Homo sapiens: one gene and its partner. The protein of the gene in region 2 purifies or fractionates together with the protein of the main gene of each other region. This does not show direct contact. Each region holds a gene or a part of one and is shown on either strand. Other genes may lie near its edges.

Evidence for each region.
Region 1: the proteins of ACP1 (region 2) and POTEE purify together in Homo sapiens (affinity purification with mass spectrometry; 2 studies listed by BioGRID and IntAct, with this or other methods). This does not show direct contact.

What each region holds. Positions count from the first base shown.
Region 1 is NC_000002.12:131,261,430-131,266,051, reverse strand, and holds the end of POTEE (POTE ankyrin domain family member E), read right to left. Parts: intron 4,327-4,622; coding exon 4,206-4,326; intron 2,698-4,205; coding exon 1,369-2,697; 3' UTR 774-1,368; downstream 1-773.
Region 2 is NC_000002.12:274,947-279,162, forward strand, and holds the end of ACP1 (low molecular weight phosphotyrosine protein phosphatase), read left to right. Parts: intron 1-193; coding exon 194-255; intron 256-2,033; coding exon 2,034-2,139; intron 2,140-2,280; coding exon 2,281-2,358; 3' UTR 2,359-3,337; downstream 3,338-4,216. UniProt on the Homo sapiens protein: Acts on tyrosine phosphorylated proteins, low-MW aryl phosphates and natural and synthetic acyl phosphates with differences in substrate specificity between isoform 1 and isoform 2.

The sequences.
Region 1 (4,622 bases), about 130 Mb from region 2:
CGTAAACAAGAGTCTGGCCACGTTTTTGTAGCGTGGCTGTGCTGTGCTGAGGTACCTCTTCCACCCCTTGTCAGCTTGGGCTCTCCAAAGCCCGCAGGCCAGAATGGCTAGTCACCAAAAGAGCAAAGGTGGGGGCCTGCCCCTCTCCGGGAGCTCTGTCCCAGGAACATTTCACATTTCCATTGGCCAAGGAATGCTGGTGGGGGTAGCTGGAGGCCCCAGTTGGGAGGTCCTGTCCAGTGAGGTGGAACAGGATCAGGGGCCTGCTTACAGAAGCAGTCTGGCCATGATTTGGTAAAGCAGCTATGCTGTGCTGTGGGATCTCTTCTGTCCCTCGTCGGTTTGTACTCTCCAAAGCCCGCAGGCTGGAATGACTAAGTTGCCTGAACGGGAAAGATGGCGGCCTGCCCCGTCTTTTCTCTCAGAGTTTTATCTTGTTTCGTGGAGCTTAATTTTTAGCCTGTTGATTTTACTGTCTACATTAGACTTGTTGAGAAAGAATCTGTTCTCTTTTAGGTGAGATAAATGAGAATTCATTGTCTTCTGTAAATAAACCTGTTCATGTCTTGTTCTCTGGAAAGAAGTCTCTTTCAGCTATCTGACTTTGGTCACAATCATGTAGAGCAGCAGCCAGTCTACAATGACGTAATTGAATTTCCATTTCCAGTGTTTCCTCGTTGTGTCTTACATTGTCCAGTTCAGAACTGAGCATTTTATTCTCAGTTGTCAACATGCTAAGCTGTCCACTGTACTGAAATACTGTGCTTCCTCAATTTTTTTTAAGGTGTGCACTTTTATCCAACTCTCCTCAAGTCAGAGTACAGGTAAGCCCTGGCTGCCTCCAGCCACTCTCAGGGAGACCAAAAGCCTTCATACACCCCAAGTTGGGGTACAAAAGAGGGGGGCCACGAAGGCTGATCATTCAAAATAAAACAAAATTAAAAAGTATTAAGGCGAAGATTCAAAAAATTTTGCATTATGTAATTTGCACAAAAGCAATGCTATCACCTCCCCTGTGTGAACTAGGGAGAGGACTGGGCCATTCTCCTTAGAGAGAAGTGGGATGGCTTTTAGCAGGGCAAGGGGCTTCCTGAAACAATGCGTCTCACAATATTTGGAATGACTATTGAAAAGAAGAACAATGTACAATCAAAGTCCTTGGCAACATTGTAGAACTTTGGAGGAAGCTTCCTCCAACCGACTGCTGTCACCTTCACCATTCCGGTTTTTAAATCCTGAGTCAAGCCAATAAAAAACAAAACAAAAAATGAAACAAGAAAACAAATAAAGCCATGCCAATCTCATGTTGTTTTCTGAGAAGTTTGGTTTTGTCAAGAAAGGGTGTAACGCAACTAAGTCAGAGTCCACCTAGAAGCATTTGCGGTGGACAATGGAGGGGCCTGACTCATCATACTCCTGCTTGCTGATCCACATCTGCTGGAAGGTGGACAGCGAGGCCAGGATGGAGCCACCGACCCACACGGAGTACTTGCGCTTGGGAGGAGCAATGATCCTGATCTTCATCATGCTAGGCGCCAGGGCAGCGATCTCCTTCTGCATTCTGTGGGCCATGCCAGGGTACATGGTGGTGCCGCCAGACAGCACTGTGTTGGTGTACAGGTCTTTGCGGATGTCCACATCAGACTTCATGATGGAGTTGAAGGTAGTTTCATGGATGCCACAGGATTCCATGCCCAGGAAGCAAGGCTGGAAGAGCGCCTCGGGGCAGCGGAACCGCTCGTTGCCGATGGTGATGACCTGGCCATCGGGCAGCTCGTAGCTCTTCTCTAGGGAGGAGCTGGAGGCCGCCGTGGCCATCTCCTGCTCGAAGTCCAGGGCAACATAGCACAGCTTCTCTTTGATGTCACGCACGATTTCCCGCTCGGCCATGGTGGTGAACCTATAGCCACGCTCGGTGAGGATCTTCATGAGGTAGTCAGGCAGTTCCCGCCCAGCCAGGTCTAGGCGCAGGGTGGCATGGGGGAGGGCATTCCCCTCATAGATGGGCACAGTGTGGGTGACCCCGTCACCAGAGTCCATCACGATGCCAGTAGTACGGCCAGAGGTGTACAGGGACGGCACGGCCTGGATGGCCACGTACATGGCTGGGGTGTTGAAGGTCTCAAACATGATCTGGGTCATCTTCTCGCGGTTGGCCTTGGGGTTCAGGGGGGCCTCGGTCAGCAGGATGGGGTGCTCCTCGGGAGCCACACGCAGCTCGTTGTAGAAGGTGTGGTGCCAGATCTTCTCCATGTCATCCCAGTTGGTGATGATGCCGTGTTCCATGGGGTACTTCAGGGTCAGGATGCCTCTCTTGCTCTGGGCCTCCTTGCCCACATAGGACTCTTTCTGATGCATGCCCCCCATCATGCCCTGCTGCCTGGGGCGCCCCACGATGGAAGGGAAGACAGCCCGGGGGGCATCGTCGCCCGCAAAGCCGGCCTTGCACATGCCAGAGCCGTTGTCAATGACGAGCACGGCGGTATCATCATCCATGGTGAGCTCATTCAATTGTAGAGCCTTTAAAAGATTATCATTCTTTTTTTTCACACTTTCAATATCCTCCAAATATTTCTTTTCTCTTAGCTGGCTCTGATGTTTCATTGTGTCTAGCTCCAGTCTTAGCATGGCAATTTCTTCCCGCAACGTACTATTTTCATGCAAGACGTCTTTTTCTTTCTTACAACTAAGAGAAAGCTAAGTAAACAAAGAGAACTTTTAGTTAGCACTCAATAGATTGACATATCATGATTTCTTCTGAAATTCAAAAATAACATGTATTTGTATAATGAAAGAATCCCCATAGTGGATATTTAACTGGAAAAAAATTGGACAAAACTTCAAACCTAATAAGAGTGTAAATTCCTCCAGTGATTTATTTTTCATCGTCTTTAAATAAATATTTAAACTTTTAGGAATCTGCTCCTAAATTCCTAAAAGTTTAAATATTTATTTAAAGACGATGAAAAATAAATCACTAGAGGATTTTTAAGAATCCCAGAATTAAAAAAGCCTTTTTCTGAGTTACAAAAAACCCAGAGGCATAAAATATAAGATTAATAATTTGACTACATTTTTAAGATTAGGTTTACACTCTGATATCTAACCTATCAACCACACCATCCTAAGAGCCTTAGCTATGCATATATTTGGACAGAAGCAATTTCTCAAAGTTCTTTAAGTTTCTTTTACTGAAGAACGTTTTACCGATATTCTACATTTCTAATATTTCTATACTCAGTTATAAGAATTACATTTATTTATAACTGTCAAATCTAAGCACTGTACCCTTCTACACTGTACACATCTGTATCTAGGCATTGCTCTTCTACATATAATACTGAACTCATTTAAGATCGCGATTCTTAAAAGGAGAGGTCAAAAAATATACACAGATGCAGGATTTTCCCCAGGTCTGCTGATGCTACTTCTAGTGATCCTCCACAAAACCACACTTACTTCTGTGGTGTAAATATATAAATACAAAAGAAACCTTTTGTTTCAAAATATGAATGGTAAATAAGATACAACTTATAGAGATCTTCTTAGAAATCATGAGATTATTTGCCATTGCGGTAACTTTTATTTCCTCTTTATAATGTTTGAAACAGTAGTAATGGTGAAATAGGGGAAATATACTGAACTATTTCTCCAGAAACAAAATACTTATCAATAAATTATTACTAAATGTGTATCATGGCATGTCATTGTTTTCAAACCTCTTTACACTGAAATGAGAAACTACTTGGAGCAAACTGTTCCTCTCTGCAAAAGTAAGGATAATGGTATCCACAATGTGGCCTCTGACCCAGCTATACATTTCCTACTTTCTTATCAGTAAAAATAATCAATTGACTTCTCTATTAACATTTTTTAAAAAACTAATGTCCAAAAACGAGAAAATCTGTTTTCAGTAGCAAAACTTATTTCTGATGTGGAAAGATCATCAATTCTTATGAAAAACATCAAATACTTCTCCTTTGGATTGAGGCCATTGTGCAGGTCACTACTCAACTGTTGCAGGCAAATGAAGGTGAATTAAGAACATGGCTTTATCCTATACGTACGTATATAGATATATGACAAAGGATATATAGAATATATACACACATATATATGACTTAAAAATCCTTTATATTTCCAAAATACAGTTCTTTAAAATATACACACATATAAAAACATTTGAAAATAACTAAAGAAAATACCTCAGAATTCATTTTTTCAACCACTTCTATCTGCTTTTCTTCATGAATCAGAATCTCATCGTGTAATATTCCAGTGTTCTGTTCTTCACAAAATTGCTTCTGAGTATCATTTTGTTCGTCACTAGAAGAAATTTTAATTTTCATGAAATACTGGAGCTGTCCCTAAAATGATGTACAGGGCAAGATGGCGCCATCAGATGTCATTCACACAATGCATATCTGCACATTATTCCAAGACAAGGCAAAGGGGTCTCACATCTGTTAACCAGGTGTCCCCAACCATGCTGGCACCAGGGACTGGTTTTGTGGAAGATAATGTTTACAGGAACCTGAGGTGGGGGATGGTTCCAGGATGATTCAAGTATATTACATTCATTGTGCACTTTATTTCTATTATTATTAATATATAATGAAATA
Region 2 (4,216 bases):
ATTTCTTTGCAGTACAATTTTGAGAAATAGGTTAACTCTATTTTAACTTAAAAGTACCCTAAAAATTATTTAATTGTTTATTAGTGAGTAACAGGCTCAAATACAGCAGTTTTTTTTTTCTTTTAGTATTGCTTTGCATCCTCTAGGCTTGAATGGTATAAACACTGTGTTTTGACTTCTTATTCAATTTTAGATTACCAAAGAAGATTTTGCCACATTTGATTATATACTATGTATGGATGAAAGCAATCTGAGGTAATCCTGTTTTTGAAGAATATTTCTGTTCAACTCTCAGTTCAGCAGTGGGCCAAGTAATTTGTTGTCCAGATTTACTTTTTCTATTTTAAAGGTTTTAATAGTCAGTGATGGTCACCATATGTAGAATTATTTTATTTAGAACAGCAAAAAACTTAGTAATCTAGAATTGTCTCTTAGGTATTTACAAGGAAATACACCTTAGAAAAGGGAAAGTCTAGTTGTTAATAGCATGATTTAATTGGAAAACTAGCTTGGCTGTTATAGTTTTGTATCAAGCATATTGTTCTGCATGAGAACGATTTTGATATTTTTGCTGTAATGATTCCTGGGCAGGGCAGTGTTTTATTGATTCTCAGGTCAAAGCTCTGCAACCATAGGTTCCTATTATTATCCCATCTTGTAAAAGAAGGAAGTGAGAAACGGTAATGTTAGGTTATGTCCCCGAGTTCACACAGCTAGCATGTGGTGGATGTCATGGGATTTAAGCCTAGGCTCAGTGAGGAAGGGCCCTGCTGTATGCACCCCTGCCTCAGTCACCACCCTCCTGACCTGCCCCAGTCCCATGTTCAAGGCGTCATCGGGAACGGATCATAATTTAATGTCACTCCAGGATTCTGACTTGCATCACTACTTATTCATAAATATCTCATGTTTTTGATGAAGATAAACTATTTGTGCTTTTAATTACTTTTGTACAAATGAACAGATAGGGATGCACCAGTTTCAATTATTTTTTATTAATTAGGACCTTCATTAAAATGCATGTATTTTTTAATTTTTATTTTTCAGTCCTTATTCTGTTCTCATTGTTTTTGCTGACACCATAGCCCATAGGCATCGTAAAAACACCTTTTTAGGAGACCCCATTTGCTTTGACTGGCACTGAGCACCGTGTTTCTTTGCGTGTGGGGCAAGTGGAGTTCCTGCAGCCTCACATTTGCACGTGCTGTTCCTCTGCCTGGAAGCTCCTCCTTGCTTCTTGGGTCATTCGGCTCCTATTTGCCCCTCGTGGGTCAGCTTAAATTCATTTCTTGATAGAGGTATTCTGCTGCCCTGTCATTAGGCCAGATTGTGCATTAGACTTAGGCCTGCCTGCAGTTCTCATTCCTGCACCTAATCCTGAGCTGTAAAACTTCGTGCATGGGAGCTCTTGGCTGTTCCGTTCCCACATAAAGCACGTACCTGACTCATCAACTCATCTGTCGCAGGTGCTCAGTCGAAATTTGTTAAATAAATGGAGGCGCTTAGTTAAGTTTGCCTTTTTCTTTTGTAGCAATGTGAAAGCTAAGGGTGGAAGTCTAGAGTGAAGCTGAGTTTTCAGCTTGGGCAGAGGCTTAAGGAATAAAAGATGGAAGAGTAATTAAGGAGTGGGTCGTGCTGTGGGAAGTGCTGTGTCAAGACACCTGAGGATGGAATTGGTAGCCCTCTGTTTTGGGACTGGTTCAGATGGTGTTTTGGGTTCCTTTCTATGACCTTTATCTCTGAAACTTGATTGTCTTAAAATGTATTTTGTGGGAGAAAATATAATTATTGTATATTTTGTGTAACAGAATCAGTGAGAATAAGCTGCTGTCGCAAACTGTCTTGCCTAGAGAGAGGGCAGTGGCATACAGCTGCAGAAGGGGCCACACGGGCCTGCTGAGTGTTCCGTTTCATTTCAAATTAGGTCATTCTGTCTTGATTTTGATATGGATGTTTCAGAACACCCTAGCAGATGTCCCTGTTTAACTTGAAACCATAGATCAGAAAACTAAGTTCATATTTCAATTTTACAGAGATTTGAATAGAAAAAGTAATCAAGTTAAAACCTGCAAAGCTAAAATTGAACTACTTGGGAGCTATGATCCACAAAAACAACTTATTATTGAAGATCCCTATTATGTAAGTACAGTTCACGTTTTAGGGCTAATATGAAGACCCAACACATTTGTATCCTGCCATATTAAATAACAGATGAGATTGTGTTAAGGATGTTTTTGTTATGCAGGTTTTGCCATTTTCTTCTTTTTCCTGTCCATTTAGGGGAATGACTCTGACTTTGAGACGGTGTACCAGCAGTGTGTCAGGTGCTGCAGAGCGTTCTTGGAGAAGGCCCACTGAGGCAGGTTCGTGCCCTGCTGCGGCCAGCCTGACTAGACCCCACCCTGAGGTCCTGCATTTCTCAGTCGGTGTGTAATCACGTTCCAGGGCCCAAAGCCCAGCTCTTTGTTCAGTTGACTTACTGTTTCTTACCTTAAAAAGTAATTGTAGATGGAAATCAGTTGTGTTTGGCAGGAGAATCAATAAAAATCTTTGATTCAGACAGCTTATGGGGTATTTTAAGCATTCTTAGACTAGTTGAACATCTCACTTTGCCCCAGTTACAAAAATAGTAGAACAAGCAACATAAAACAATGAAGGAAAACCTCACTTGAAGGCCCAGGTCAACATCTAAGCCTGTTGAGACTTAGATAATCGAGTCTACCTCTTCAGTAGGTTTGTGTGGATGGCCTGGAGGGCAGGTGCCCTCTGCTCCCCAGTGCTACCTCTCTCTTCCCTAGGGCCTTTTGTGGATTGACAGTAGTCCCCTCCGTAGGAGCTCACAGTCTAGATTAGAAGTGTTTTAATTTCTACACACCCATAGTGCACACTTGTATATTGAAAAGATAGGGAAGAGAGAAACATTTATGGAATCAGTCGTTGGCACCTTCAATACTTCATGATTTTTGTCGAGTTTACTTCATGAGGAGGTCAGCCCATTGGCTCCCATCTGAACCACTTTGCCTCTGAAACTTAATTACATCCAGAAAGAAGGACACTTGTATGCTAGTCTATGGTCAGTTGAGGAATATGACTGTTTTTATATGCACATGTAACCCAAATGTCCAATATAAATTGGCTTATTTTTTAAAATAATTTTAAAAGTTGGGAAAAGTGTTATTATTTGGCATGCTTAAATATTGAATAAGTATTCTTCATCAGCATTTAATAAATGTATAGGCAGATGTAAGGTAATTTCTGTGTATTTTGAGATAATGTCAAAATCATGAATATTTCAAAATAAACTGGGGAGTTATAAAAATACAACTAGAGATATAAATCTGGTGTCTGCCTGTTTTTTTATTGACAGGTAAGGAAGCATTTGAAAACATTGTATTGTCCTTTTTACATGATCTGTGATGTTAGGTGTGCATATTTTATCTTCAGGATAAGGAAGTAAAATGATGAAAATAAGCACATTGCTGCCCCATGTCATCATGTCTAGTTTCTGAAGGAAGTTTGAGGTTCTACAGCTGGAACTGTCCTTGCCCAGTACCATCCTCTGGACATGTTGCCTCTACGCTGTGCCCTCCTGTGCAGTGATGCACAGCTGCCTGGCCAGGACATCTGCACTCCTGACCTCAGTATCATGAGGGTCCCAGGCAGTGCCATGGGGAGGAGACACGTTTGATCCTTGACTCCCTAGTATCTGGAGGATAAGCTGTTGCCAGATGAAAGTGAGTAGTTTCCCCACTGTACCATGTGGAAGTGCCAGGCTGTCTTCATAGGAAGAAAGTTTGCAAACCCAGTGAGTCTTGCTCTTGTTGGAATTACTCAGACATACAGAAAACTGAGGGGATTAAATATTAATAGATTGGATATTTGAACATGAAATCCTTAAAACATAAAAAATGGGGAAGGAAAGGTCAAGTAATGAGCTGTAATTAGAAAACAGGATTAAATAAGAGCACTTCAAAAGTTACACCCTGTTCTCTTCATTCAGTAATTGCTTTTAATCTCAAAGTCAAAATTTCTTACTCTTCTATTCCTTTATGTTTGGAAATAAAATCCTATAGTTTTTCTTTAATGTTTATCTCTATAAATACAGATCCTCAAACAAATCCTAGGACTCTTGACTATTCTGTCCTTATGGCTACACCCAGACGATACCATCTGCCGACAAGGGCTCATATGAATGGAGAAACTCATTGCTTTGCCG